4 linked regions of the Homo sapiens genome follow. The protein of the gene in region 4 interacts with the protein of the main gene of each other region in a pairwise test. Each region holds a gene or a part of one and is shown on either strand. Other genes may lie near its edges.

Region 1 (6,666 bases), on a different chromosome or scaffold from region 4:
AACTCCCTTTTTTCTCTTGCCTTTTTTATGCATAAATGGAGGTCAATTTGATTGTCCTGACCTACTGTATAAGTAAATTTCAAATGTCATTACTTTCTCTTTGTTATTATAATGTGTGATTAAATGCTTTTTTAAATTGCTAAGGGAAAATAACAAAGTGTTAGTAATCATTGCTTTCTGTAGAAGAAAAAGGTTTAAATTTAAAATGTGTATTTAGAGCATGGAGAGAATCATTTAATGAAGCCTATTTTTCTGTTCCAGCAACTGTTTTTATGAAAGAAAAACTTGAAATGCTACTTAACTTACTATTTCAAAGGGAAGTATATTTCTTTTTAAAGAATCTTTTTAAGATTAAAAATGAATACCTTAAATCTCCCAAAAGAGATAACCAGTATCTGAAGGTTTATACAATATTTACACAGTGGCTACAATATTCACAAAATTCTTATGTTCTCTTATGAAAAATATACACTTTTCATTTTGTCTTCTTCTTTTTTTTTCTTTTTTTAGATGGAGTTTGGCTCTTGTCACCCAGGCTGGAGTGCAATGGCGCAATCTCAGCTCACTGCAACCTCTGCCTCCCGGGTTCAAGCGATTCTCCTGCCCCAGCCTCCCATATAGCTGGGATTATAGGTGCCTGCCACCATGCCCAGCTAATTTTTGTGTTTTTAGTAGAGATGGAGTCTCACCACATAGGCCAGGCAGTCTCGAACTCCTGACCTCAGGTGATCCACCCACCTTGGCCTCTCTAAATACTGGGATTACAGGCGTGAGCCACTGCATCCGACCTCATTTTGTTTTTTTCAATTCTGTTATCGGCATTTCTTTCTTTTTTTTTTTAATGTATAGGTGTTCTGTCATACGTTATTGTGAGCTTTGGTTCTTTGAACAGGTGATCTATTCTCTTACATTTTGTGCTTTTTATCTTGGGTGCCTAGCATTCTGTTTTTTTGATCCTATGTCATAATTTTTTGAGAAAATGTTTGATACTGCAAGATCATTGTTTAGTGGTCTGTTTTCTACTTCAGTATTCTACCAGAGAACATATTTTTTAGGGGAGAAGGGTTATGGTTTTGTAAGAAACTTTAAATATACTTTTAGGAGACCCACAATCATTTACAGTTTTATCTTTGGCCTTTGAATAGGTTCTTTTTTCTTTAATGTCTCCGTATTTGAAGAACTGAGCTCTGTACATTATAAATTTGCTTAAAGATTTTGATTTTTTCTTCAGAATATGGTATACTTAAAATTAATTAATTAAGACAGTTTCTTTTTTCTTTTCTTTTTTTTTTTTTTCGAGACAGGGTCTTGCTCTGTCACCTAGGCTAGAGTGGAGTGGCATGAACACAACGCACTGCAGCCTCTACCTCCTGGGCTCAAGCAGTCCTCCCACCTCAGTCTCCTGAGTAGCTGAGACTACAGCTGTGCGCCACCACATCTGGCTAATTTTATTTTTATTTTTGTAGAGACAGGAGTCTTGCCATGTTGCCCAGGCTGATCTCAAACTCCTAGGCTTAAGTGATCCTCCCGCCTTAGCCTCCCAAGTGCTAGGATTACAGGCATCAGCCACCACGCCTGGCCTGATAGTTTCCACATAGTTTTTCATGACTTAGAAGATATCATTGCCATGTAGGTTTTATTTTTAAAAGTCTTGAGCTCTTCTTAAATATACATTATAAAGAGCAAGCATAGATGGAAAGTGCATATTGAACACATCTGTGCATTTGAGAAGGCAGGCTTTCATATGCTGTCATGAGCAAAAAGTAGAAGTGATAAATGCAAGTTATGTTTTGAGATTGCTTACACCGTGACAAGATGCCATCACTTGTGATGTTATGAACTGTTATAAACTCTTTGCTTCTGCTAAGAAGCAGTCTAAATATAATCAACGTACAGTGAGCTCTTTGAAGCCAACCAAGGCAGGCAGAACCCTCTTAAATATGAGACTGATGTATAGGTTCTCTCTATGGTCAGTATCACTGGATAAGCCTTCTCCTTTCATAAGAAAGGATGTATTTAAATACATTTTATTTTGCTAAATCCTGTTTAGTTTTCAGCCATTAAATGTCACATGAAGCCTTGATAGAATTTGTTCATAATGGCTCATGTATTATTATTATTTTTGAGATGGAGTTTTGCTCTTAATGATATTATTATTATTTGAGACAGAGTTTTGCTCTTATTGCCCAGGCTGGAGTGCAGTGGCGTGATCTTGGCTCACTGCAACCTCTGCCTCCCAGCTTCAAGCGATTCTCCTGTATCAGCCTCCCAAGTAGCTGGGATTATAGGCATGTGCCACCATGCCCAGCAAATTTTGTATTTTTTTTTGGTAGAGACAGGGTTCAACCATGTTGGTCAGGCTGGTCTCGAACTCCTGACCGCAAGTGATCCACACGCCTTGGTCTCCCAAAGTGCTGGGATTACGGTGTTAGCCACTACACCTGGCCTGGATTGTGTATTATTTATGTCTGTAGTTTATATGCTTAGTTGTTGCCTATAGTGATCTGGGTAAGATTCAAACATTTATCTTTTGTATCTTCTACAGAAGTGCTTTGAGCATCAAATTTGTTTTAACGTTAAATTGTAGTTTGCTGTATTAAAATAGATCAATGAATATAATTCAGTCTTTTAGGGGCACCAAGTAAAGCATAAGGTCATATATACTATACAATATGTTTATTGCACTTCCCATGGGGATAAATCACTCTGTCATTCCTAGTTATTTTAAAAAAAGAACTTTATGATTACGGTCCTCTTTCTCACATACTGCAAACTTAAAAGATACATACACCAAATATAGGTCTGTTTTAAAGGAGAGGAAAAATAGTTCAAGGAGTTTTTGCCTCTTTGTTTTTCAATAGATTATTCTGCCATTTTTTAAAGGAAAGGGAAAATGAAAACAGCATGTCTTTTTAAACATTGAAAAGAAATATGGAGGCTTTAAACCGCAAACTGAAAAAGCTGAGTAGAACAAAGGCAGTGGAGCATACAATACAATTCTATTTATTTGAGGTTAATTGAAGTTAATAATTTTTAAATTTTTTTCTAATTTTATGCCTTAAAATAGGTTTCTGATTACATAAAATTTGAATAGAACACTCAAGAAGTATGTAGATTTTTGAAAAACCCAAACAATATTCTTCTTAGATTTTTGGAGGCAAAATTTAGACCAGTATACTAATTCAAAAGACAAATATTTCAGAGGAAGTGGAGTACAGTATTTAACATTTTGTTTGCAATTTTACTTTTTCTTCCCTTCTTCCCTATTGAACCTTGATTAAAATGTATGAATACAATACTTGGATTTTTTTTTTTCAGCTTAGACTCTGATAATTTCAGTGGTAGTGGGGAAACCTGAATTTGTCAGCATGATTATTTGTAACTCAGATTGTTCAAATGTATATAGAAGGTCCCCTTCAAGTGTTGTTTCTCCAAGTAGTCATAAATGTAGCAAGTATAAATCAGAATATCATCTTATAATCTTACAGAGTTAACCTAATGAGTCAATACCTTTATAAGCAAAACCATGATAAATTTAAAAACAACAGAAATGTGGCATGATTACTTATTTATTTGTTCCAGGTGACTCTAAATAGTTGATTTTTCTGCCTGAAGGATCCTGAACATATTTAGTTACCCTGTAGTTATTTAGGAATTTAAACCAGAAGACTTTGAAGTTGTATATTCTTGCAATGCATAAAATGACATTATAATCAACAAACTTATGGTTTGTTTCAATTGATGCACACAAAAAATAACTTATAGTTAGACTTTTCTATTTCAAGTAAAGCTTTGAGTTACTTGTTTTTATACATATTCATCATGTACCCTTTATTGTTTCTAGGTGTTGATATACTTTAATAAAAATGATATGTTTAATATTTTCCCATTAATATATTTCTTTGAAGCTATTTGTTTTAAAAGATGTAACACTTATTTGCTGTCAAATTCTGAATTAAAAAATCTGTTGGTGGCCAGGCGCAGTGGCTCATGCCTGTAATCCCAACATTTTGGGAGGCCAAGGAGATGGATCACTTGAGGCCAGGAGTTCAAGACCAGCCTGGCCAACATGGCAAAACCCCATCACTAAAAATACAAAAATTACCCGGGCATGGTGGTGGGTGCCTGTAATCCCAGCTTCTTAGGAGGCTGAGGTAGGAGAATTGCTTGACCCTGGGAGGTGGAGGTGGCAGTGAGCCGAGATAGCACCACTGCACTTCTAGTTGACAGAGTGAGACTCTGACTCAAAAAAAAAAAAAAAATGTTGGGAAGACACACAATTTTATATTTTAAAATGTAAGTTAGTTTAGATCTATGAAGATTTGTTGTTCCCGTCTCTTCAAGAAATGAAAAGCCGGCTGGGTGCGGTGGCCTGTAATCTCAGCATTTTGGGAGGCCGAGGCAAGAGGATCACGAGGTCAGGACTTCAAGAGCAGCCTGGCCAATACGGTGAAACCCTGTCTCTACTAAAAATACAAAAAAAATTAGCTGGGCGTGGTGGCACACGCCTGTAGTCCCAGCTGCTTGGGAGGCTGAGGCAGGAGAATCGCTTGAACCTGGGAGGCAGAGGTTGCAGTGAACTGAGATTGCGCCACTGCACTCCAGCCTGGGTGACAGAGCGAGACTCTGTCTCAAAACACAAAAGAGAAAAGCTAAAGTAAGAGCATATAATTGGCATCACTGTGGACAGATTGTCAATGAAAATTCAATAGAATACCTTATTTAAGGTAAGAGAAGATGCTGAGTTACTGTCAGATTAAATTACCCTACATTCTAACTATGACTGCATTGAGATTATTTGTACATAGTGTGGCACCCACCTCCCACGCTCATGCAAACAGGCTGTTATATCTTTGTAATAGTTATTTTAAAATGTACAATAAATTATTGTTGACTGTAGTCACCCTGTTGTGCTATCAAATACTAGATCTTATTCTATCTAGCTATATTTTAATACCCATTAGCCATCACACTTCTTCCCCTCATGCCCCCACTGTTCTTTCCAGCTTCTGGTAACCATCATTCTACTGTCTATCTCCATGTGTTGAACTGTTTTAATTTTTGGCTCCCACAAAGGAGTGAGAACATTTGAAGTTTGTCTATCTGTGCCAGTCTTATTTGACTTAACATAATGTCCTCCAGTTCTATCCATGTTTTTCCAAAGGACGGGATCTTATTCTTTTTTATGGTTGAATAGTACTCCATTATATATATGTACTACATGTTATTTATCCATTCATCTGTTGATGGACACTTAGGTTGCTTCTAAATCTTGGCTATTGTGAATAGTGCCGCAATAAACATGGGAGTGCAGATATCTCTTTGATATATGAATTTCCTTTCTTTTGGGTATTTATCAATGTTCATCAGGGATGTAGGCCAATAGTTTTCTTTTTTAATGTGTCCTTTTGATTATTATTATACTTTTAGTTCTGGGATACATGTGCAGAACTTGGGGGTTTGTTACATAGGTACACATGTGCCATGGTGGTTTGCTGCACCCTTCAACCTGTCATCTAGGTTTTAAGCCCCGCATGCGTTAGGTATTTCTCCTAATGCTATCCCTCCCCTTACCCCCCACCCCTCGACAGGCTCCAGTGTGTGATAATCCCCTCCCTGTGTCCATGTGTTCAGCTCCTACTTATGAGTGAGAACATTTGGTGTTTGGTTTTCTGTCTCTGTGTTAGTTTGCTGAGAATGATGGTTTCTAGCTTCATCCATGTCCCTGCAAAGGACATGAACTCATTCTTTTTTATGGCTGCTAGTATTCCATGGTATATATATGCCACATTTTCTTTATCCAGTCTATCATTGATGGGCATTTGGGTTGGTTCCAAGTCTGCTATTGTAAATAGTGCTGCAATAAACATACATGTGTATGTGTCTTTATAGTAGAATGATTTATAATCCTTTGGGTATATACCCAGTAATGTGACTGCTGGGTCAAATGGTATTTCTGGTTCTAGATCCTTGAGGAATCGCCCCACTGTCTTCCACAATGGTGGAACTAATTTATACTCCCACCAACAGTGTAAATGTGTTCCTATTTCTCCACATCCTCTGCAGCATCTGTTGTTTCCTGACTTTTTAATGATTGCCATTCTAACTGGTGTGAGATGGTATCTCATCGTGGTTTTGATTTGCATTTCTCTAAAGACCAGTGATGACAAGCTTTTTTTTCATGTTTGTTGGCCGCATAAATGTCTTCTTTTGAGAGGTGTCTGTTCATATCCCTTCACCCACTTTTTGATGAAGGTTTTTTTTTGTTTTGTATATTTGTTTAAGTTCCTTGTAGATTCTGGTTATTAGGCCTTTGTCAGATGGCTAGATTGCAAAAATTTTCTCCCATTCTGTAGGTTGCCCATTCACTCTCATGGTAGTTTCTTTTGCTGTGCAGAAGCTCTTTAGTTTAATTAGATCCCATTTGTCAATTTTGGCTTTTGTTGCAATTGCTTTTGGTGTTTAGTAATGAAGTCTTTGCCCATGCTTATGTCCTGAATGGTATTGCCTAGGTTTTCTTCTAGGGGTTTTATGGTTTTAGGTCTTACACTTAAGTCTTTAATCCATTTTGAGTTAATTTTTGTATAAGGTGTAAGGAAGCGAACCAGTTTCAGTTTTCTGCATATGGCTAGCTAGTTTTCCCAGCACCATTTATTAAATAGGGAA
Region 2 (5,831 bases), on a different chromosome or scaffold from region 4:
CCTTCTTGGGCCTGTGTCCGCCGTTCTCTCCTTGTGCCCTTCAGTTCACTTTTACACGGTAGCCTTGAAGTGAAGGCTTTAGATGTGGGACCCCCCTAATGTAATGGATTTCTCAATACTGTATGAATAATGAAACTTACTATCATAAACCATGTTTCATGTGGCCTGTTAGGGCCTGTCACTTTGGGAGCCGGAAGGAGGTGCTAGTCATTTTATTTTTACGTGAAATAGATGACCTATTTAATGCCATTTGTGTTTCATGCCATTTTATCCAAAGCTTTTTCTCTGTGTCCACTCTCCAAACAGCATTCTAGAGCAGTCAAGGAGACAGCTAATCTCTCTAGGGACTATTTGGTGGTTTAAAAAAAGGGTCAGACTTTTAAACACTCTGACCATAGAAATGTTTTTCAAAATGGCAACAATGGATAAACCAAGGATTTTGTGTTTAACAATCCATTTCCAGTGTCTTCGCCACATAAAATAGCCATTTTCTTTAAAATAGTTTTGGACTAACGAAGCTGAAATCTATTCTCATTCTTGTTTGTCAAGAAAGGAAAATCTGTTATTCAAGGTAAATTATTTCTACAAGGGCAACAGGTATGGTCCTCCGATATTTACATTAAGAAGAGTTAAATTTATTTTAACGTAGACACTAAAAGTATGTGCAATATACAATTAAAGTAGGAATTTGTTACTGATTGAGAATTGTTACTGGTGAATTGGTTTTCAGGTTTTGAGCATACATATACAATGTGTTTCAAATGCTGCTTGTAAAATTAAACCATCATCTAGAATAGAGTTAATTTATTATAATCAAGCTACAAATAGGTTTTCTTAAACCAGAGATGCACTGCCCTTGTCTAAAGTTCTTATTGCACTGGTTTATATGTGTATGTGTGTTTTATTGTGTGTTTTTTTAATTTGTAAGTATTCTAAGAGTTTCCTAATACTAAGGTTAAAATTTTCATGTTGACCTGAGCCTTTTGCAAATTTGCTTTGGCTCTATTGATTTGTCCATTATGTGTTAGGCAAATATAACTTAAGTGGAGGGGGAAGTTTATGAATATAATATAGCTCTGTGTTTTAAACCTCAGAAACAGATTTGAGTGTTTCAGTATTATAGAAACAGTGATGACTATTCATGCTCTGCTAGTCTATGCCTGCAACTCCAAATGTTTGTGGTTCAGTATTTCCCACCTACATTTCTGTTTGGTGACATTGCTCATTTTAACAAATATGACCGAGTCTAGTTTTTCTTTAAAAGGATAGTTTATGAGTAATCTTTAAAACCATTTCCATACCATCTGTATATAACCATTTCGGTAGAGAACACACTACACTGAACCCTGCTTTAGAGCTGTGTGTTGAGCTAAAAATATAATTTTTTAAAAATTGACTAGCAAAATCTATGGCCACACTGAGAAGCCTTTGAAAATGGCAAATACTTTTCATCACCAATTGCCCAATTCATCTTTCTTCTGCTTCCTCAGCCTTGTAGCAAAGGCTACACAGCAGCCCACAGTCCACAGTCTTTTTGGGAAAATTGGCCTGCCACCTTCTTTAAGCTCAGTTTATTTTTGACTTACTTTCTTTGCTGTAGTTATGAACCTTGGGGCATTAAAATCCCATGGCAAGGAGCATAAGAGATGTTCTCGTAGCTCTGCGTTGTGTGAAATGTCCATCTTAGTTTTGTTAAAAAAAAAAAAAAAAAAAGGAAACAGCCTCACTTTTTTGTGCTCCCTCAGAATTGCTTGCTATGTCTGTTAATACAGCTGAGCTTTTTGTTTTCTTCTCTTTTTGTCTCAAGATTGTATATGAAGGAGGCTTTTCTTCTCAGCTAACAGGCATATAAGGAAAACCATCTAGAGAGTTTTCTTTAGAAGTGACTCCCATTAGCCTGGTGTGGTGGTGTGTGCCTATAGTCCCAGCCACTAGGAAAGCTGAGGCAGAAGGATCCCTTGAGCCTAGGAGGTTGAGGCTGCAGTGAGCTATGATCGCATCAGTCCACTCCAGCCTGAGCAACAGAGCGAGACCCTGTGTCTAAGTAAAGAAAAAGCCAGAAGTGACTCCCACTGCTTCTGTTGATCGGCCATAGGGCTTCCATGGGTGGAAACTTGTGAGGGAGTTTGTATTAGGTCTGGTCATGGAGGGATGATGTACCATCAAGGTAGACCCATCTTCCTGATGCACATTTGCTGTGCGAGCCAGAGTACAGTCATAACACGGTATTCGCATTTCGTTTTCTCTGTCTCACTGAGACAACAATCTATACTGTTTTGGCAAGTTTGCATTTTAGTATTAATTTATAATTAGGGATTGTTCAAACTTCAGATCTGTTTACAGGTTGTAAAAATAAACTTCGGTATCAGTGCATCTACAGAAGTGTTATTTGGTAATCCAAATATTAGAGTTTTCCCAAATCCAAAAACGGTCAGAAATAAGTCCATTATCAATATAATTTGAAGAAGATTTTTAGTAGTACTGTGAAGTTCGTGCTTACCTGGATGAGAAGAATAAATGACACGGATACACTCCTGAGAAGACACTCGTTAAACATTGCATCGGAGAGCTGCCTTTGATAAATGTGCTGTTAAACACTTGAATGAAGAGAATGGTGGCAGAATGAGTGAGCAAGCAGATTGCCCCAGAGGGGCCGGTAATAATCACGTGAGGGATAATCAGATTCCTGCGTATTCAGCATCTTCTCTATTCATGTGGAGTGAAAGCTGGTTTTTATACAGGAGATACGTAAAGTAGGCCCCACAAATAATATTTTTAAAATACAAAGGATCACCACAATCCTCTATTGAACATATAAGGATCCTCAGATTTAAATAAGTACTTTTTTTTTTTTTAATCAGAAGAACATTGTTGTTTGATTATATGTTTTTAAAAACCTGAAGCTTTTTTGGTGGCAGGACCTTTCAATAAATATTTATTTGGTCAAAATTTTTTATTTTGATTTTATTAAATGGGAAGAAAGCAAGCAGAAATAGTAAAATTCAGTAGGTTTAAAACAATCTATAAATGTATTTTATTTCCAAGAAAACTTAGGGTCTCAAAGCAAGATTTTAAAGTGATTTTTGAGAAGACTTGGGGGGGACAATAATAGACATTCATGTCAGATCCCATATGGGGGATTTTTAAACATTTCTTTGAACTTTGAGGCCTGATTTAGGGGTGGGATTTTATTGCTTTTTGTTTTAAAGGATGAAATTTTGTGGGGTTTTAGTCTTTGATTCAGTCAGTATTTGGTTTATGTTAAATAAAAAATCAGTATCATGGAAAAGATATGACCATAATTTAGTCTCCTCAAGTGAAAAACAGGAGTAATGTTTCGTTGCACTTTGAAAGATCTGCTTCAAGGCATAACTCGTGTAGTTGTCTGGTTTCAGGGATAGCTGTTTGAATTGTCATTCTAAAGTAGGTCATCAGGTTCACTTATTATCCGACCTTAATCTGGGATAAAGGTTTTGGTATTTGCCCACTTCTAGATAGAATGAATGAAAACAACACAAGCGTTTTATGAGCACTCTTTATCAGAAAGGTATTTCCTGGACCAGAAATGGGCAATAGTTACAATAGTTGATCCTCTGTTCTGGAAGCTTTGAAATTTATCAGAGAATGAAGTCATTCAGTACATCTGATAAAGTTTTGTTGTTGTTGTTGTTGTTGTTGTTTTAATTGGGCAACCCTCAGAACTGAAGAGGTTCAGAGAACTTTCCAGGTTTATACTATACCTCAAGACCACATAGATTAGCTACTGCTTATTCTTTCACATGGGCTAGGCCTGTTCTCCTCCTCCAGACCTAGTATTCTAAGTTATTACCACATAGTATTTTTATGTTACCCATCATCTTTAAAAACATTATAGGCTGGGCATGGTGGCTTACGCCTGTAATCCCAGCACTTTGGGAGGCCAAGGCGGGCGGATCATGAGGTCAGGAGATCGAGACCATCCTGGCTAACACGGTGAAAACCCATGTCTACTAAAAATACAAAAAATTAGCCAGGTGTGGTGGCGGGCGCCTGTAGTCCCAGCTACTCAGGAGGCTGAGGCAGGAGAATGGTGTGAACCCGGGAGGCAGAGCTTGCAGTGAGCCGAGATCGCACCACTGCACTCCAGCCTGGGCGAAAGGGCAAGACTCCATCTCAAAAAAAAAAAAAAAAAAAGACTCATTTATCCATTTACATTTATTCTCAGATGATAAAATATATACTGATACTATAACTTTCTTATGGTATCAGTTTTCTTTATTTTCTTGAATAAAATTACTTCTACCTTCATTTGGTCTTTATAATCCACTGTCCACAGCATCTTCCTTTAAACCAATAGTCCCAGAAGAGACCCTCTGAAATTCTAGGACTGGATATTAAAATGCCTGAACCTGTTATCTAAATCCTTTTTAAGAAACTTAATGTTCCAGCTCTTGAACTACACTGTGGAACAGTAATTTGTGCCCAATTTAGTGGAAGATAATGAGGCTCACTGTAAACACTACATTGTCCTGCAAAGTAATTCTGATGAGAGTTTACTGACTTCTAGAGCCATTCTCTTTAACCGTCTGCAGGTCTAAGGATTAACTATATTTGTGATTTGTAATAAAACTGAGTTGTACAACACTGCCTGTGTTTGTCTGGCCAAGACATTTGCTTCACTTTTAAAATGCACGTTATCTTTGGAGAGGTGAATTATTCTACAAAATGCACCCTAAATCTCATTGTTTAAAACCTTACTGATCTAATACCATCTACACAAAAAAATGTTGTAGTTGCAGAACTTAGTTTATAAAAACAAAGAATGTGTATTTCTTCAATAGCCGGGTATTTGGATTGTTCTCTTGATAATATTTGAATGTGACTCTTGGATTTAAGTGCACTATTATTCATGGCTTATACAATAAAATTGCACTGTATGGCAAATATGTCTATAATGTATGCTTTGCTGAAACCTCAAGAGTGCTGTAAGGTACAGGTTTCCATATTGTGAACCTGTGTACGCACACACACATATACATACAGTCTTAGGGAAAAAAAAAAGCAGAACTTTTGTAAGTCTGTGTAACATTTTAATATTGTTTGTAATATTCACTAGGTGATAATTTCCCCTGTACCCTATAACTGTAATCATTCACCTTGGGTTGGCCGGTTTGTCAAGCTTGGTTTACTGAATCAAGAAAGAGTCTTGTCGAATGTGGTACTGTTCTTAGTGTGTAATATTTGCGTATGGTGTTCCTCTGCCTCAGAGGACAGTTGCACAGATGGCTAGTGTTAAATTTCTATAGACGATGGTAATAAAATCTGAATATATTTAAGTGCTAATAAATTAAATCTGTGGGCTTATTTGAATTTTTTTTTCAAATATTGGTGAAGGTTTGGATGGTGTTTCAATTAAATCTATATATTTTTTACCTTACATTTTGAAAAAATTGAGATCTGCAAAAAGGCTGCAAAATAGTACACTGATCTCCCTAGATTGTTCCTATATTGAATGATTGGTAAAATTTTCCATATTTGCTTTAATACCACGTGTGTGTGTGTGTGTGTGTGTGTGTGTTTGTTACACTGTTATTTTGCTGAAACATCCGAGTTAGCTGCAGACATTGTGACCCTGTCTTCTAAATACTTCACAGGAATCTCCCAAGAATTAGGAATATGTATTCTACATATTATTGATTTAGTATGTATTAATATAAACACATGACTCATTGAGGGTAAAAGGAAAGCTCTTTCTTAGAGTAGAATGCCAGCTATTAAATGTAGAAAGAAAATGGAATTAAAAAGCCACTATTTGGCATATTATTACAGTAATCATTGACTTAGGCAATGCC
Region 3 (8,904 bases), on a different chromosome or scaffold from region 4:
TACAATATTTTGAGAGTTCTGCCTAAAAATGTTTTGGCTTAAACAAAAAAGTTTTGGTTATCCTGAAAGAACTTAATTTTGTGAGACAACTCATTTCTCTAATAATTCTCAACAAAGAACATGTTAGTATAAATAGCTTTAAAAGTGGTATAATTTGCTTACTATTTAGAAAAACACTTCTACCCAATAAATGAAGAAGAAAGAAAAATCCCTGCTTTACAGTTTTTAGTCTTATCTAGATCCAATTATTAGTTTTTAAGTTAATGTATTTTTGGTGACTTATCTTTTATTAATTAAAAACATTTGCAGCTGTCCCTTTCCCCCCAACACATCGCTTGACATCTGAAGAAGTATTTGATTTGGATGGGATACCCAGGGTTGATGTTCTGAAGAACCACTTGGTGAAAGAAGGTCGAGTAGATGAAGAAATTGCGCTTAGAATTATCAATGAGGGTGCTGCCATCCTTCGGAGAGAGAAAACCATGATAGAAGTAGAAGCTCCAATCACAGGTAAGCTTATTCATGTTTTGGGTATTATTTTTATTATGTCATTATTTAGTTGCCTGGATTTACAACTTACTGTTTTCAATGATACTGTATGCTAAATCAATATTACTTGGACATTATCTTGAATTTCAAATTATTTTCCATACTTAAAAATGATTGCCTGTTTTCAGTGAATAGACATGATTCTAAATAATCTGAGTGTAGAAGTTAGTCTAATATGCTTTTGTGAAGGTTTCATCAATTGTGTTGACCATACTTCAATTTGATCAATACTTACTTTGCTTTCAATTGTTAGGGTCAAATACCTTGATGTCATATCAGATACCAAAAGTGACCATTTAGAGAGCAACAGAAAGTATTGAGTTAGAATGGATATTTTAACTGCCACCATTGTAATTTTGTCATCTTGAAACTTAAAACACATCCTTGGAGTCCTAGAGACGATCTTTATAAATGTAGATTTCAGTTTGTCACTGACCACAAATTTCGTTATTTCTGTTACATCTTTTTCTAGATCTTGAGCACATGAACACTTGGTTACACATCATCCTAATCATGACTGTTCATAGACTACTTCCTTCTCAGACATTTCTTGATAGCATTTGTACTATGTCTTATGTAAAATACGTTTTAACTTAAGTAAAATTTGTTGTTTTAGAGATTTTTTTCCCTTATCTAATAATCTTCTTGTTTCAGTGTGTGGTGACATCCATGGCCAATTTTTTGATCTGATGAAACTTTTTGAAGTAGGAGGATCACCTGCTAATACACGATACCTTTTTCTTGGCGATTATGTGGACAGAGGTTATTTTAGTATAGAGGTAATAATCATAAACTGTCATTTGATTTGCTGTTAAGTGTTAACACAGATGCTTTCACTTAATCCTAGTTTTCACAAGTACCTGTGTTAGGTTTTTTTAATAACTCTGCATATTCTGAAGTTTTTATGAAAAGCTACTATTTATTCCTGTTCTGTCTTTCAAACAATTCAAATAAATTTCTTTGTATAACTCTGTTTATATAATTATAATTGCCATTTTTTTCCCAGTGGAATTTATGAGCTGACTGAGGGGTCTTTATTGCCCTGTTAACTAGTGGCCTTAAAAATTTAGTGCTATTTATCTCTCTTGCCCCTAAAGGCATTAAACCATGTGAAAAAAGATTACTTGAATTCTGTCTGATTAAATAAAGTATATTGTGATTTTTTTATTGCTTGAGCCCTAGTGCTTCTGTTTCTCCTTGTGTAGCTATTAAGACTCAAGTATATCCTATGGAATCTTTGTGTATTTGGAAAGTATTAATTTGTTTTTAAAAACTTGAGGCATTAAAATGACCTTTTGATTATCACTTAACAGTAGATGGTTCCTTTTCTTCCTTTTTCTCTTTTCTTTTTCTTTTTTTTTGAGACAGGGTCTTACTCTGTGGCCCATGCTGGAGTACAGTGGCACCAGCATGGCTCAATGTAGCCTTGACCTCTTGAGCTTAAGGGATCCTTCTGTCCCAGTCTCTCAAATAGCTGGGACCACAGGTACACACCACCATGCCTAGACTAATTTTTAATTTTTTTGTAGCAATGGAGTTTCCTATGTTGCCCAGGCTGGTCTTGAACTCCTGGGCTCAAGTGATCCTCCTGCCTTGGACTCCCAAAGTGTTGAGATTACAGATGTGAGCCACATTGCCCTGCCATCTTTTTAAATTATATAAACAAAATGCAGCAAATGTAGAACAATATGTATTTTCCAATATATACATTTTTTCTTTTTTTAATGAAAAGGGGATCATATTATAATATTGTCTGTAACTTGCTTTTTCATACATGCCTACACCAAATATCCTTCCAAGTCAGTAAATATAAACTCGTAGCATCATTTTAATATCTACATTGTTTTCCATCTAATAAACAAACCATAATTAATTAATTCCTTGTGTTAGACACTGAAGATGTTCCCAGTTTTTTTCTTTACAAATGATGCTTTAATGAGTCATATTATTCATACATCTTTACATACTTGCCTGATTATTTTTGTAGGACAAATTCCTAGAGGTAGAATTGTGGGGTCAAATTTCTACCAATAGATACCTGTGTTGCACATTTAATATGTTCTAAGCATGTTCTAGGCACTGAAGACATATCGATTAATCCTCACAATAATATTAATGAGGTAAGTACTGTTGTTTTATTCATTTTATAGATGAGGAACCTGAGGCTTAGAGAGGTTAAGTAACTTGCCCAAGGTATTATTAGTAAACAGCATAGCCAGGCAATGTGACTCCCAGCATATGCTTTTAACCACCTTCCCTAGTAGATACTGAAACCTTACCTGGTGAATTTATGTTGGTTACTGTTGTTTATATCTCCTTCTCCAGTGTTTCCAATATACCTTTTTTTCTGAGGTGTGCTAGGATTCTCAGAGTGGAAGGAAGTTCTAGACTCTGTCTGTCCTGCTTCCCTTAGGAATTTTGCTATTTTGAGTTCTTCTTCCTCCTGCTGATAGTTGATTATTAGCCTCGTCAACTTTTCCCAAATTGTCACAGGGCTTCAGGCAAATCAGAAAATGGCCCATTTTAACAAAAAAATTTCAGGCATTTGACCAAAACAATAAAATAAACAGTTTTATGAAGCTTATTTGGTAACTAAGTTGGTGTGCATGTCCTTGTGTAAGATTGTTTTGCAGCTGACTCTTTTTTTTTTTTTTTTTAATTGAGATGGACTCTCACTCTGTCGCCCAGGCTGGAGTGTAGTGGCGTGATCTCGGCTCACTGCAACCTCTGCCTCCCAGGTTCAAGAGATTCTCCTGCCTCAGCCTCCCAAGTAGTTGGGATTACAGGTGCCCACCACCACTCCCGGCTAGTTTTTGTATTTTTAATAGAGATGGAGTTTCGCCATGTTGGTCAAGCTGATCTCGAACTCCTGGCCTCAGGTGATCTGCCTGCCTCGGCCTCCCGAAGTGCTGGGATTACAGGCGTGAGCCACTGCGCCTGGATGTAGCTGACTCCTTTAATACATTTTGTTGTTATAAAAGGAAAATAACAAAGAATCAAAATAAGCATCGAGAACAGATTATTTCCCTGATTTTATTACTTTTTTCCCTTTTGAATAAAATGAAGGATATGAATAGTTACATGTTTAGATATACCTTAATTTATTAACAATAAAGTTTTGTTGGGTGTGGTGGCTCACACCTGTAATCGCAGCACAGGTTGGCCAAGTCAGGCAGATTGCTTGAACCTGGGAGTTCGAGACCAGCCAGGGAAACATGGTGAAACCCTGTCTCCACAAAAAAAAAAAAAAAAACTTAGCTGGGCCTGGTGGCATGTGCCTGTAGTCCCAGCTGCTCAAGAGACTGAGGTAGGAGGATTTCTTGAGCCCAGAAGGTCGAGGCTGCAGTGAGCAGTAATTGTGCCATTGCACTCCAACCTGGGTGACAGTGAGACCTTGTCTCTAAAAATAAAAAAGTTTGTTTTTTCTTTTTGCATATGATTATATAAACCATGCTTATTTCCATATCAAATATTTCTTCCTTTTTTAAGCAAATAAGTAAAATGTGAGTCTCTTTCTTATGTTAAATCTATTTAGAGAATAGCATCTGCTATAATGTTTAATAATATTTTTATTTGAAAAATTACATTTGCATTGAATTAGTTCAGATAATAAGCACTTACCATATGTAAGGCAATATTCATAATCAATGAAACAAACATAAAACATGGACCTTCCCTTCATGGGCAGCATGGCATAATGCTTAAGATCAGAGGATCAGAATCCTATCTCCATCACTTAGAAGTTTTGTGGTTTTGGACAAGTTACTTGAGATCTTTGCTTCAGTTTCTCATTTGTAAAATAAAGATGATATTACATACTTCATAGTGTTGTTTGAGGAATAAATTAGGGGAATTATATAGTGCTTCACATATTGTAAGTACTTAATAAATGTTAGCTGCTGTTATTTTGACAGTATTATTTACTAATACGCATCTGTAGACCAGTGTGCTAATTGTTTTTATATTGGGCAGTCTGTAAATCCAAAGTAATTAAATAGATTGTTTGACTCATTCATTCAACAAATATTTATTGCTCTTCTCCTATTTGCTAGGTACTCTTCTGGGAGTGGAGAATCAAAAGTGAATAAGATGACAAAATCTGTGATTTTGTGGTGCTTATATTTTAGTAAGGGACAAAGAAAGATAATAGAGGATGGTAAGGGTAGTAGAGGAAAAGGAGCAAAGATCAAGCAGCTTCATTAAACAAAAGTACAAGATAAATTCACTAGAAAAATTTTCTTTTGCAGTGTGTCTTATATTTATGGGTTCTGAAGATTCTATACCCAAGCACATTATTTCTTCTGAGAGGCAACCATGAATGCAGACACCTTACTGAATATTTTACCTTTAAGCAGGAATGTGAGTACTGCCAGAAGAAATGTTTTCACTTCCTCAGTATTCTTTTGGACTTAAGTGGGTAGTAAGAGTTTTGAAGACTTTACAGTGCAACATGTAAGGACAGATTTCATGTCCACACATAAAGCTTTGAGGAAAGTTGTCGAGCACTCTCTGGTGTTTAATGGTATTAAGAAGTTTTTGGTGGGGCATGGTGGTTCACGCCTGTAATCCCAGCACTTTGGGAGGCCCAGGCAGGGGGATTGCCTGAGCTCAGGAGTTGGAGACCAGCCTGGCCAACATGGTGAAACCCCATCTCCACCAAAAATACAAAAAAAAAAAATTAGCTGGGTGTGGCGGCACACTCTTGTAGTCCCAGCTGCTCAGGAGGCTGAGGTGGGAGGATCGCTTGAGCCTGGGAATCGGAGGTCATAGTGAGCTGAGATCATGCCACTGCACGGACAATTGCCTGGGCAATAGAGTCAGACCCTGTCTCAAAAAAAAAAATTTTTTTTCATTTCAGAATTTCTTATTATGTTTAACTTTTACAAACATACTTAGAGTTTTATATATAAGTTTTAATGTTACAATTAATTTTTCTAAGCCAGGCACGGTAGCTCACGCTTGTAATCCCAGCACTTTGGGAGGCCGAGGCGGGTGGATCACCTGAGGTCAGGAGTTCAAGACCAGCCTGGCCAACACGGCAAAACCCCATCTCCTAAAAATACAAAAATTAGCCAGGCGTGGTGACATGTGCCTGTAATCCCAGGTACTCAGGAGGCTGAGGCAGGAGAATCACTTGAACCTGGGAGGCGGAGGTTGCAGTGAGCCGAGATCGCGCCATTGTACTCCAGCCTGGGCAACAAGAGCGAAACTCTGTCTCAGGAAAAAAAAATGTATATATTTTTTCTAACAGGAAAAAATAAAAACCAAAAGAAAAAAATGTTATTTTGCATTGGAGATTTTTGTCCTTCAATCTTGAGGCATTCCTGTGAGGAATCCTAACAAATTGTTTATCCTGTTACCATTGCAGATCATTTCAATCATGCTATTAATGATTGAAATTCTTCTTAAAATTTTTTTGTTTTTTTAAATATCATTGTTTTAAGACTAGTCAGGTACAGTTGGTGAAATTCTTAACCTGCAATGTTTATCCCTTTTCTCTCTCAAATTATTATAGCAATGGTAATCTAATACCTGTAAGTAACCATATGTTACAGAACAAGATTAGGCCTTTTTCACACCTCAAACCTTTGTGCTTTTTTATTATTTTTGTTATTTTTATTTTTTTTTTGAGACAGTCTCGCTCTGTCGCCCTGGCTGGAGTGCAGTGGTACAATCTCGGCTCACAGCAACCTCCTCCCGGGTTCAAGTATTCTCCTGCCTTAGCCTCCCAAGTAGCTGAAATTACAGGCATGCGCCACCACGTCCTGCTAATTTTTGTATTTTTGGTAGAGGCGGTGTTTCACCATGTTGGCCAGGCTGGTCTCTTAACTCCTGACCTCAAGTAATCCACCTGCCTCGTCCTCCCAAAGTGCTGGGATTACAGGTGTGAACCACCGCATCTGGCCTGCCTTTGTGCTTTTTAAGTTAATATTTATGACTGTATTAAGTAGAGTTAAATTCTAAAAGCAGAAATAATTTCAACGTTTTGAGACTCAAAACATGATCCAATAAAGGTCATACTAAGTAGAGACTTGCAGCAACAGGAGAAAAATACAGTGATGGGTAGTGGCAGAAGTGGCATACTCTTATAACTTCAAGGATCAGGCAGTTAACCTAAATGAGTAAGATAAGACCTGGAAAGTGCATGCTTGACCTAAAAGCAGTCAAATTAGAATTTTTATTAAACCACAGTGCTAGAAAACAGAGTCGTTAGCAGACTGCCAGTGTAGAATCTCTGGTTGCTGGATATATATATAGTTTTTTTAATATTTGAATATTACAGTATTAAAACAGGAAATAGGAACTAAGTTCTTTTTCTTTGCCTAGATAAATAACAAACCACCTACCAAAATCTCATCAAAACCAAAATAGGAATTTAAAGTTGTAAAGGAGCAAATGAAAGTGCATGATATCTCTCTAAAAGTAAATGATAGTTTGATTTGGTAGAGTTTTGTCTTTCTTGTGTTTCTATATTGGCTTCCTGCTTCACTGCCCATTTTAAAGTATTCATTGTAGGCAAGAGGAACCCCTCAGCTTTTCTGACATGAGCATGCTATTATCTTTTATTTTTCAGAAAAAATGGATGAACCTTGAATTTTGTTGTGATGATGTAGTCATCTTGCCTGTAATAAGAATAAAGTAGTCATTGACTCTTAGAATAAAATAAAGCAAGTATTAAAATGATTTTAACCTCAAGTACAGTTCTAATTTTGCCTTATTTGGCCGATAAAGGTGAAGGGTTGAGCTGTTTTTAAGAGATTTCTTTCTTTTTTTTTTTTTTTTGAGACAGAGTCTTGCTCTGTCGCCCAGGCTGGAGTGCAAGTGGCACGATCTCGGCCCACTGCAGCCTCCACCTCCTGGGTTCAAGTGATTCTTGTTCCTCACCCATTGAGTCTCTGGGATTACAGGTGCACACCAGCATGCCTGGCTAATTTTTGTATTTTTAGTAGAGACAGTGTTCTGCCATGTTGGCCAGACTGGTCTCAAACTCCTGGCCTCAAGCGATCTGCCTGCTTTGGCCTGTCAAAGTGCTGGGATTACAGGCGTGAGCCACCGTGCCTGGCCTGTTTTTAGAGATTTGACTGACTTATTTTTAACAATACGTGATGACTTTTCTGTCATCCAAAATAATTTTAGAGAGCAAATATTTTGCTTCATAAGACATAACATCATCGAGAATAATTTTAGAGAGAGCAAATATTTTGTCTTCATAAGACAGATAACTTTGCATATTTTTGTTGATTCTTATAGGGGAAGATGCTTTCCTTAAAAAAATTGTGTGCAGTAAGATTTATTCTCTGTGGTATTTACTTCTGTGACTTTTGACACTGCATAGAGTTGCCCACTACCACTATCATGATACAGAAAAGTTTTATCATGCCATAAGTTCTCTCTTGCTACCTTTTTATAGTCACCCCTTCACTCACTCTGAAGCCCTGGCCACCACTTTGCTGTTTACTGTCTATAATTTTCTTGCCATCTGTCTGTCTGTCTGTCTGGGCTATTACTACAGTTGAAACTGTAACTATCTCAATTTCATTATAAATAGCTATAAGATATAAAGGAGGGGAGAGAACAAGAAATAAAAATCTAATATATATGTTTTTAAAATGGTCACACCACCACCAGTAATGTAATTTTCAATTAGTTTTTTGTTTTTCTAGGTAAAATTAAGTATTCGGAAAGAGTCTATGAAGCTTGTATGGAAGCTTTTGATAGTTTGCCTCTTGCTGCACTTTTAAACCAACAGTTTCTTTGTGTTCATGGTGGACTTTCACCAGAAATACACACACTGGATGATATTAGGAGAGTAAGTATATATTTTACTTCCGAGATTGATTTCTATTTATAGTACATTGTTGAGTAGAGCAGAAGTTTCAAACTTCACTTCACTGCCAAGATTAGGTAATAGTAAAAATTAGTATACTGATATCTTAAGGAAATAACTTCTGTTTATTCACAATAATATAGTATGAACTGTATTCAAAGTTGGTATCGTTTTCCTATGCACATTTTATCCTTACTTTTTGATGAGTTACTTCTGTTCTTTCTTTTCTTTCTTTCACAGTTAGATAGATTCAAAGAGCCACCTGCATTTGGACCAATGTGTGACTTGTTATGGTCCGATCCTTCTGAAGATTTTGGAAATGAAAAATCACAGGAACATTTTAGTCACAATACAGTTCGAGGATGTTCTTATTTTTATAAGTAAGGAAAAATATCCAAGATTAATCACATTTTAGTTGTTAACATAGCATATGCTTCATACAGAAAAGCCATTATTTTACTTAATTTACTCTTTTTCCCCCACAGCTATCCAGCAGTGTGTGAATTTTTGCAAAACAATAATTTGTT
Region 4 (8,904 bases):
TCTTGTGCTCAACAAAGGAACATTTTAATGAGAGCCTTAAATCAATTCCACCAAATGTGCCTTGTTGTGGAACCTGTCCATGTGCTGTAAACAATTTCAGTGGAGGCCGAGGCGCCTGCTGTCTTCTAGTGAAATCCTGGGACTCAACCCACCCCCAGACGCATGACTTCAGGGGCAACGGTTTTTTAATAGATCACAGTAGATGTTTGCATCTCATTGTTTAATTGTGTAATTAACTGGAGTTGTAGTGAGATCCCACTGTTAATAAGGCTGGAGTAAGGAACCTAGGCTGGCTAGGTTTGTGGATTAGACCATTTTAAAGTCTGGGTAATTATGCCATAAATGGCAGAGTTACTTTCCAAACTTTGAGATGCTGTTGTAATAAATATGGTGGAGGAGGAGGAGGCTTGATGTTTGAAACTATGGATTCTTAACCCCAACCTCTTGTACAGTCAGCTGTGGTCACTTCTCATTCCAATTCCCATCCCCCTCCCTGGTTTCTTTCCTCCGGGCTCTTGTTTCTTTGGGGAAATTGAGTCGTCATGTTCTGGGATAGGCTGTCTGCAGATTCCTCAAGGCTCTGCAGCCTGTAATTCAGGCCTAGGAGTTGCTTTTATTAGTGATGGCTTTTCTCAGCTGTTGGGAAGTATGGTGGCAGGGCAAGGGTGCTCTTCTTGTCACTTGTCAAATGATATACTCAAACTCCTGGTGTTCAGAGCAGCATTGAGTGGTGGACAGAGCTCAAGCAATGGAGATAAAGTATGGTCCTTCCTTGGCATCTGCAGGGAATTGGAATAGGACTCCCTGAGAATAACAAAATCCAAGGGTGCGGCCAGGCCTGGTGGCTCACGCCTGTAATCCCAGCACTTTGGGAGGCCGAGGCGGGCGGATCATGAGGTCAGGAGATTGAGACCATCCTGGCTAACACGGTGAAACCCTGTCTCTACTAAAAATACAAAAAATTAGCCAGGCGTGGTGGCGGGTGCCCGTAGTCCCAGCTACTCGGGAGGCTGAGACAGGAGAATGGCCTGAACCCGGGAGGTGGAGCTTGCAGTGATCGTGCCACTGCACTCCAGCTTGGGCGAGATCGTGCCGAGATCGTGCCACTGCACTCCAGCTTGGGTGACAGAGCGAGACTCCGTCTCAAAAAAAAAAAAAAATCCAAGGGTGCTCAAGTCTCTTATATAAAATGGTGTCGTATTTACATATAACGTACACACAACTTCCCTGTATACTTTTGTTTTGTTTTGTTATGAGACAGGGTCTCCTCTATCACCCAGGCTAGAGTGCAGTGGCACAATCTTGGCTCACTGAAGCCTCAAATTCCTGGGCTCAAGCAGTCTTCCTGCCTCAGTGCTCTAAAGTATGAGGATTACAGGCATGATCCACTATGCCCAGCTTCTCCTGTATACTTTAAATCATCTCTAAGGGCCAGGTTTACGCCTGTTATCCCACCACTTTGGGAGGCAGAGGGAGGAGGATCGCTTGAGCCCAGGGGCTCAAGACCAGCCTTGGCAACACAATGAGACCTCCACCTGTACAAAAAAAAAAAAAAAATTGCCAGGCATGGTGGCACGTGCCTGTGGTCCCAGCTGCCCAGGAGACTGAGGTGGGAGTATTGCCTGAGCCCAGCAGGTTGAGGCTACAGTAAGCCATGATTGTGTCACTGCACTTCGGTCTGGGTGACAGAGTTCAAAAAAAAAAAAAAAAAAAAGGGCAGGATGCAGTGGCTCACGCCTGTAATCCCAGCACTTTGGGAGGCTGAGGTGGGCGGATCATGAGGTTAGGAGAGCGAGACCATCCTGGCTAACATGGTGAAACCCCATCTCTACTAAAAATACAAAAAATTAGCCAGGCGTGGTGGCAGGCGCCTGTAGTCCCAGCTACTTGGGAGGCTGAGGCAGGAGAATGGCGTGAACCCGGGAGGCAGAGCTTGCAGTGAGCCGAGATTGCACCACTGCACTCCAGCCTGGGTGTCAGAGCGAGACTCTGTCTCAAAAAAAACAAAAAAATCTGTAAATTACTTGTAATACCTATTACAATGGAAATGCTATGTAAATAACTGTTGTATTCTTTAATTTGTATTCTTTTTTATTGTTGTATTGTTTTTAATTTTTATCTTCCCCCAGTGTTTTTGATCCTCTGTTGAGGGATGTGGAGCCCAGGGATAAGGAGTATATCTGGCAAAGCAGCAACTCAGACTCATTGGCAGGCCCTGTGGCCCTGGATGAACCTCTTAGCTTCTCAGCCTCTTCTATAAAGGGACATCCTAGAGTTGTGCTGAGGATTAAGTATAATGAAGTAGGCCGGGTGCAGTGGCTCACATCTGTAATCCCAGCACTTTGGGAGGCCAAGGCAGGCGGATCACCTGAGGTCAGGAGTTCAAGACCAGCCTGGACAACATGGTGAAGCCCCGTCTCTACTAAGAATACAAAAATTAGCTGGGTGTGGTGGCACACACCTCTAATCCCATCTACTCAGGAGGCTGAGGCAGGAGAATCACTTGAACCCGGGAGGTGGAGGTTGCAGTGAGCCGAGATCGCGCCGCTGCACTCCAGCCTGGGCGACGGAACGAGACTCCGTCTCAAAAAAAAAAAATACACACACACACACACACACACAGCCCTTTCTTGGTCTTCCCTCTGTGGTGTGCTTCAAAGATTCCTTCAGCTTTACAGTCATTCCCAACAATAGACATTTTACCTACTGGGACCCTCCATTCCAGTCCAGCTGGAATATTTGCCATCTCCTAACACATATCTGGTTTTCTCCCACCTTTCTTTCCTTCGGGCCAGTCCCCGGTTGTACATTGCCTTCTCCTGTCTCTCTGTTGCCCAGCCCCACCGCCTCTTCTTCCCTGAAGCTGTCCTATCTCTCCTGCCAGAAGGTAGACACTGTAGAACTTCTGGACTGTCATTCTTGCGACACCATCCATATTTTTGCCCCTATTGGGTTTTGTTTTAATTTACTGAGGGGCTCTCCCATAGAGTTTAGTACAGTACTTATTTATAATGGGTTCTTATGTAGGTGGTTTTTTTGTTTGTTGTTTGTTTGTTTTTGTTTTTTTTGAAATGGAGTCTGCCTGTGTCTCCCAGGCTGGAGGCATTGGCACGATCTTGGTTCACTGCAACCTCTACCTCCCAGGTTCAAGTGATTCTCCTACCTCAGCCTCCTGAGTACCTGGGTTTACAGGTGTGTGCCACTGCACCCAGCTAATTTTTGTATTTTTAATAGAGACGGGGTTTCCCCATGTTGGCCAGGCTGGTCTCGAACTCCTGACCTCAGGTGATCTGCCCACTTCAGCCTCCCAAAGTGCTGGGATTACAGGCGTGAGCCACTGCACCCAGCCGATATAACAGGTCCTCATATAGGTTTATTTAAAAAGTGAATGAACCATTTGGGTGCAGGGCAGAATGATCAAGGGTGGAGTTAAATATCCCCTTGCATCCTAGGCATGGGGAGTCTTTTGCACCCTCCCCAGCTTCTTTGAGTTGGGGTTGCCTGTTCCTCCTTGCGCCTGCTCTACGGTGACCAAATTAAGGATCAGACCTTCCTTCCCTGATCCTGGGCTGGCTGGTTTTGGTGGTGGTTTTTCTCAGTTTTGATGTGGTGGGTCTTCTAGCTTTCTCCAAGTTCTGTGCGTGGGTAAGCACCGCTACGTATGAAGCTGACTGCAACTTAAAAACTGGTGCTAAAGTTGCTTCCTCAGAGAACTGGGTAGGGGCCTAGAGTATCTATAACTGTGCTACTTGAAGAAAGACCCAGGGCCACGTGGCATCAGCATTCCTGGGAGCATGAATCAGAATCGCAATCTGCAATTTATTTATTTATTCTTTTTGAGATGGAGTCTCACTCTGTCGCCCAGGCTGAAGTGCAGTGGCACGATCTTGGCTCACTGCAACCTCCACCTCCTGGGTTCAAGCGATTCTCCTGCCTCAGCCTCCTGAGCAGCTGGGATTACAGGCGCGCACCACCACGCCAGGCTAATTTTTTTGTATTTTTAGTAGAGACAGGGTTTCACCATGTTGGTCAGGCTGGTCTCGAACTCCTGACTTCATGATCCGCCCACCTCAGCCTCCCAAAGTGCTGGGATTACAGGCGTGAGCCACCGTGCCCTGCTGCAATCTGCATTTTAACAAGATGCTCAGGTGACTCTGTACCCCAGAGTTCCAGAAGTCCTGGCCTAGGCATCCTTCTTTATACAGAATCTCAAGGCACAGAGCTTTCCTGTTGCAACAGTATAAATTGGGAGCTGAGATGCTGCACAGTATTTGAAGATTTGCTTTAAATAACTCACTTTATGCGAACACTCCTTGGGGTGATGTGTACGCTTTAATATTACCTCCTTTGGGTTTAAATTGAATTAGATTTTGTCAAGAAATTTCTCCATTAAATGTGTGACTCTAGGAAGTCTGCAATATTCAGCCTGATGTTTAGCTCCTCTCAGAACCTCAGCTTTTCCTAGAGGAGAATACGGCTGATTTTATAACGAAAGCCAGTGGAGAAACTGGATTTGTTAGGCAGAAATTTGGTCGACAGACAACTTTTCAGGAATACATTTGGCTCATAAAGGGAGGCATGTCTCCGCTGGGCTTTGACAGCTGTAGTGTTGTTAGTCTTTGGAGCATTTCATATTCTGGAGTGAGGGGGTTTGTGTGAGTCTGTGTTTAAGCCAATGCAGCTTCTGTGAGACTCGTCTGGGATAGAGGTTGGCCGGTTCAGACTCTAGTGTTGGAGCCAAGAGCAGTTTGGGGCCAAGGATTCAGTCTTTGGTGTTTTCCTGATGGAAGAAAGGGTCATTAAACAAGGTTGGGTGTCCTTGGCCTGTGTCCCTCAACCTCCTGCTCTCCCTAACCTCAGTAGATGCCTCTCTGCTGCTGTGCCTGGGCACTACCCCTGGCCAGAGCCACGTGGTGGGGTTACAGGCTTGGGGCCACAGTTGCTGGCACTGGCCCTCACCTTGCCCTGGAGCTGCCGCCTGCCCTTCTCCTGATTCCTGCTCTGGCCCCCATCTGCCTGGTCCTTCTTCTGAGGGTGTGAAAGTCCTGCCATTGTAGCTGGTTAGAGTCCTATGTTGGAATTCTCTTGAGTTCACTGCTGAGCCCCCTGGCGCTTTGGTGGAGCTGGCCTGAGAGATGCCACAGCTAATCAGCGGTTTGAGGAAGCCCTCTGTAGTATGTCACTTTTTCCATCCTCTTTTCTTCTCTGCATTTAGGCCGTTTCCCTCCCAATAATGTTACACAGACAGCAGTGGGGCAGGGAGGAAGCTTGGTTCGAAGGGCTGACACACACACAGGCGCCTTTCCCCTCTCGCAACTTGGTTTTACATTGCTAAACTCTCATCTGCTGTGTGCATTAACTGGGGTATGTGTTGAGTGAACGCTCAGGTGACTAGAACGTCATCCACCAGGTGTCCTGCAGATCCCAAGCCCCTGTTAGAAGTGTAAGCCTTGATAAGCGGGATATGCACTCACAGGTTTAGGTGTGTATGTAATTTCTGAAGACAAAGTCCCGAGTCGCAGGGTAGGGATTGTAAGTTACATATTAGGAAGGTGTAGATATGTGTTTCTCAAATTAGAGTGGAGAGTATAGGGCAGGTCACCAAAGTATTGATGAAAAGTTTAGTTTCCTGGGCCTTACTGCAGACCTGCCCATCAGAATTATTGAGGGAGAGGCCAGAAAATGCATTTTATTTATTTGTTAGATTATGTTGCTGTTTTTGAATAGCTGATCCAGTTACATAGGCCAGATTTCAAAAGGAAACTGCATTTTAATTTTTATTTATTTATTTTTGAGACAGGGTCTCACTCTGTCACCCAGGTTGGAGTACAGTGGTGCAATCACAGCTCACTGCAGCCTTGTCCTGTTGGGCTCAAGTGATTCTCCCGCCTCCGCCTCCCAAGTAGCTGGGACCACAGGTGCATGCCACCATACCTGGCTAGTTTTTTAAATTTATTTTTTATTTTTAATAGAGGCGAGGTCTTGCTGTGTTGCCCAGGCTGGTGTTGAACTCCTGGGCTCAAGCTATCCTTCTGCCTCTGCTTGCCAAAGTGTTGGGATTACAGGCGTAAGCCATCACGCCCAGCCTGGAAACTGCATTTATAAAGAGCTTCCTGGAGATTCTTACCTACGCTTAAGTGTGAGAACCACTGGGTAGCCATAAGGAGAATTTATCAGTCTGAAGCGGAGGTGTGGTGTTGAGAAAAAGGGTGATATTAATAGTGGGGGGCTTAGGAGGGAGTTCATTCAAAGTGCTTCAGTGTCTTCTATGGGTGAAGCTGTCTGAGGAGGCATGGAATGCAGGAAGAAGACAAGATGGAGAAACGTGAATCAGATGAAGTATGAAAGACACCATTTGGTAAAGTGCTAAGTAGAATAGAAGAACATTCTAGAATGTGTGGGATGGTAAGTCTGAGATGTAGGAGCAAATAGGGGGTGGGAGGGCTTCAGAGAGGAGAGAAGACCCTACATTGCTGAATAGATGTAGTCAGTGACGGCCTCAGAATGATGAATAGATGTAGTCAGTGACGGCCTCAGAATGATGTAAAGTCATCGGACCAGGATTCTGAAAACCTGGGTGGTACTGTTCTAATATCACATGGCAGCCACAAGTGATGAAGTAATAGAAGAGACATCTATAGACCTGTGACACCAGTTTTTCTGTATTCTGGTCCTGGCTCAATTGCTGCATACCCACATGACCCTGAGCTGGTTAGTTAACCTTTCTGAGCCTCAGTTTCCTCGTGAGCACAATGCAAGTGATGCTGTTGCCTGCCTTGCTGGCCCCTGTGAAGTTGTGATATAATGCTCTTCAACTGTGGAAATGGGTGACCCCTGGGAAGCAGCCCCTCTGGCTAGCCCTGATGGTTCTTCCCAGAGACTGTCCTGGCCAGCCGTTTCCTTTTGAGGGGTCAGCCTTTCTTTTTTGAGATGGAGTTTCTCTCTGTCGCCCAGGCTGGAGTGCAGTAGTGCGATCTCCACCTCCCGGGTTCGCGCCATTCTCCTCCCTCAGCCTCCCGAGTAGCTGGGATTATAGGTGCCCGCCACCATGCCCGGCTAATTTTTGTATTTTCAGTAGAGACGGAGTTTCACCATATTGGTCAGGCTGGTCTTGAACTTCTGACCTCGTGATCCACCTGCCTCAGCCTCCCAAAGTGCTGGGATTACAGGCATAAGCCACTGTGCCTGGCCAGAGGTGTCAGCCTTTATTTCCAGCCTTCGGACCCTAGAATGGTTTGCCAAAGGCTCAACAAAGTCCCTCTTGACTAGCAGCCTTAGAAATGGTTTTCTCATTTGGGCTGGGTGCGGTGGCTCACGCCTGTAATCCCAGCACTTTGGGAGGCTGAGGCATGTGGATCACCTGAGGTCGGGAGTTCGAGACCAGCCTGACCAAAATGCAGAAACCCCATCTCTAGTAAAAATATAAAATTAGCCGGGTGTGGTGGCGCATGCCCGTAATCCCAGCTACTCAGGAGGCTGAGGCAGGAGAATCGCTTGAACCCGGGAGGCCGAGGTTGTGGTGAGCTGAGATTGCGCCACTGCACTCCAGCCTGGGCAACAAGAGCGAAACTCTGTCTCAAAAAAAAAAAAAAAAAAAAACATGGCTTCCTCATTCAAAAGCACAAGTTTTCTAAATGGGTCTCAGTATTCCAACAGCAGCCCAGAAATGTGGGAGCCACACACAGCCACATTTTCCTGGTGGGAATTCTCCCTCTCTCTTTGTCTCAATAGCAGATTCTCCCAAGGGGTGGGTTGGTGCTGGTTCAGGGCCACTGTCTCTCCTGGCATGCTGAGGTTCTCAGGGAGTGGGTAGTGAACTGTGCTTCAGGCAGCCTAGGCAGACTTTTATGATACCCAAGGGAGGGGTTTTTATAATCACTGGATGACTGTGGGGGTTTCCCCAGTCAGCGACTCTGTTAATTTGTGGGAACTTCTGTCTGTGCTGTGGGGAGGTTCCTGAGATTCTGTGTGGCCAAGGGCAGTGGGCTCTCCCTGGGGGTGGTTATGGGGGCCCGCATGGGCACTATCATGTACAACCTCCCCTCCAGGAGACACTCTGGCTTTTTTTTTTTTTTGTCTCCTCCTTGGGGTGGTGGCGGGGCAATGAGGGGAACGCTTGTCTGCTTTGGGACTGCTGAGGTGTCCCAGCAGCTAGCTCGTATGGTACCTTTGTGCACATTACAAATAAGTACTCCCAGTCGTGGGCGCAGTGGCTTACGCCTGTAATCCCAGCACTTGGGAGGCAGAGGCAAGTGGATCACTTGAGCTCAGGAGTTTGAGACCAGCCTAGGCAACAAGATGAAACCCTGTCTTTACAAAAAATACAAAAAAACTAGCTGGGTGTGGTGGTGCACGCCTGTAGTCTCAGCTACTCAAAGGCTGAGGCAGGAGGATTGCTTGAGCCTGGGAGGTCAGAGCTGAAGTGGGTGAGCTGTGATGTGATTGCACCACTGCACTCCAGCCTGGGCACCTGAGCGAGACCCTATCTCAAAAAAACAAAAAAACAACAACAAAAAAACCCTTCCTCCAGGTAGATGCAGTCCTGCACCAGGGTTCAGGCAGTATTTCAGTGTTGACTCTTTGGTCAGACATCTTGAGCAGTGCACAACCTGTACAGTCAAAGGTGGCTGTTCCATTGGCATGAAGGCCTTGCAGCTGTGGCTCTTTGTTTCCCAGCTGATGGGCCAAGATGATTTTGATGCCTCTGTTCTAAAGTCATGTTTCAAGTGAGCCCTCTTCACTACTGTTCTGCCTCCTATGGTGGTGGGATGGGGCAATCCTGCCTGTAACATACAATAGGAGAAGCCGGTGAGGGTGGAGCCCCATTACTGTACCCACCCCACATTGTATATCTGTGGCTGCTGAAGTCTTGACCTATTTCTGGGCCCCTTCCCTGTGAGAGGA

Evidence for each region.
Region 1: the proteins of PTK7 (region 4) and DUSP19 interact in a two-hybrid assay, tested with the Homo sapiens proteins (one study listed by BioGRID and IntAct).
Region 2: the proteins of PTK7 (region 4) and MTMR9 interact in a two-hybrid assay, tested with the Homo sapiens proteins (one study listed by BioGRID and IntAct).
Region 3: the proteins of PTK7 (region 4) and PPP3CB interact in a two-hybrid assay, tested with the Homo sapiens proteins (one study listed by BioGRID and IntAct).

Annotation. Positions count from the first base shown.
Region 1 is NC_000002.12:183,095,747-183,102,412, forward strand, and holds the end of DUSP19 (dual specificity protein phosphatase 19), read left to right. Parts: 3' UTR 1-4,262; downstream 4,263-6,666.
Region 2 is NC_000008.11:11,322,816-11,328,646, forward strand, and holds the end of MTMR9 (myotubularin-related protein 9), read left to right. Parts: 3' UTR 1-5,331; downstream 5,332-5,831. UniProt on the Homo sapiens protein: Acts as an adapter for myotubularin-related phosphatases. Increases lipid phosphatase MTMR6 catalytic activity, specifically towards phosphatidylinositol 3,5-bisphosphate and MTMR6 binding affinity for phosphorylated phosphatidylinositols.
Region 3 is NC_000010.11:73,470,923-73,479,826, reverse strand, and holds part of PPP3CB (serine/threonine-protein phosphatase 2B catalytic subunit beta isoform), read left to right. Parts: intron 1-309; coding exon 310-510; intron 511-1,203; coding exon 1,204-1,328; intron 1,329-2,615; coding exon of another isoform or gene 2,616-2,669; intron 2,670-4,796; coding exon 4,797-4,908; intron 4,909-8,213; coding exon 8,214-8,359; intron 8,360-8,617; coding exon 8,618-8,757; intron 8,758-8,862; coding exon 8,863-8,904. UniProt on the Homo sapiens protein: Calcium-dependent, calmodulin-stimulated protein phosphatase which plays an essential role in the transduction of intracellular Ca(2+)-mediated signals.
Region 4 is NC_000006.12:43,078,356-43,087,259, forward strand, and holds part of PTK7 (inactive tyrosine-protein kinase 7 isoform a precursor), read left to right. Parts: intron 1-8,904. UniProt on the Homo sapiens protein: Inactive tyrosine kinase involved in Wnt signaling pathway. Component of both the non-canonical (also known as the Wnt/planar cell polarity signaling) and the canonical Wnt signaling pathway.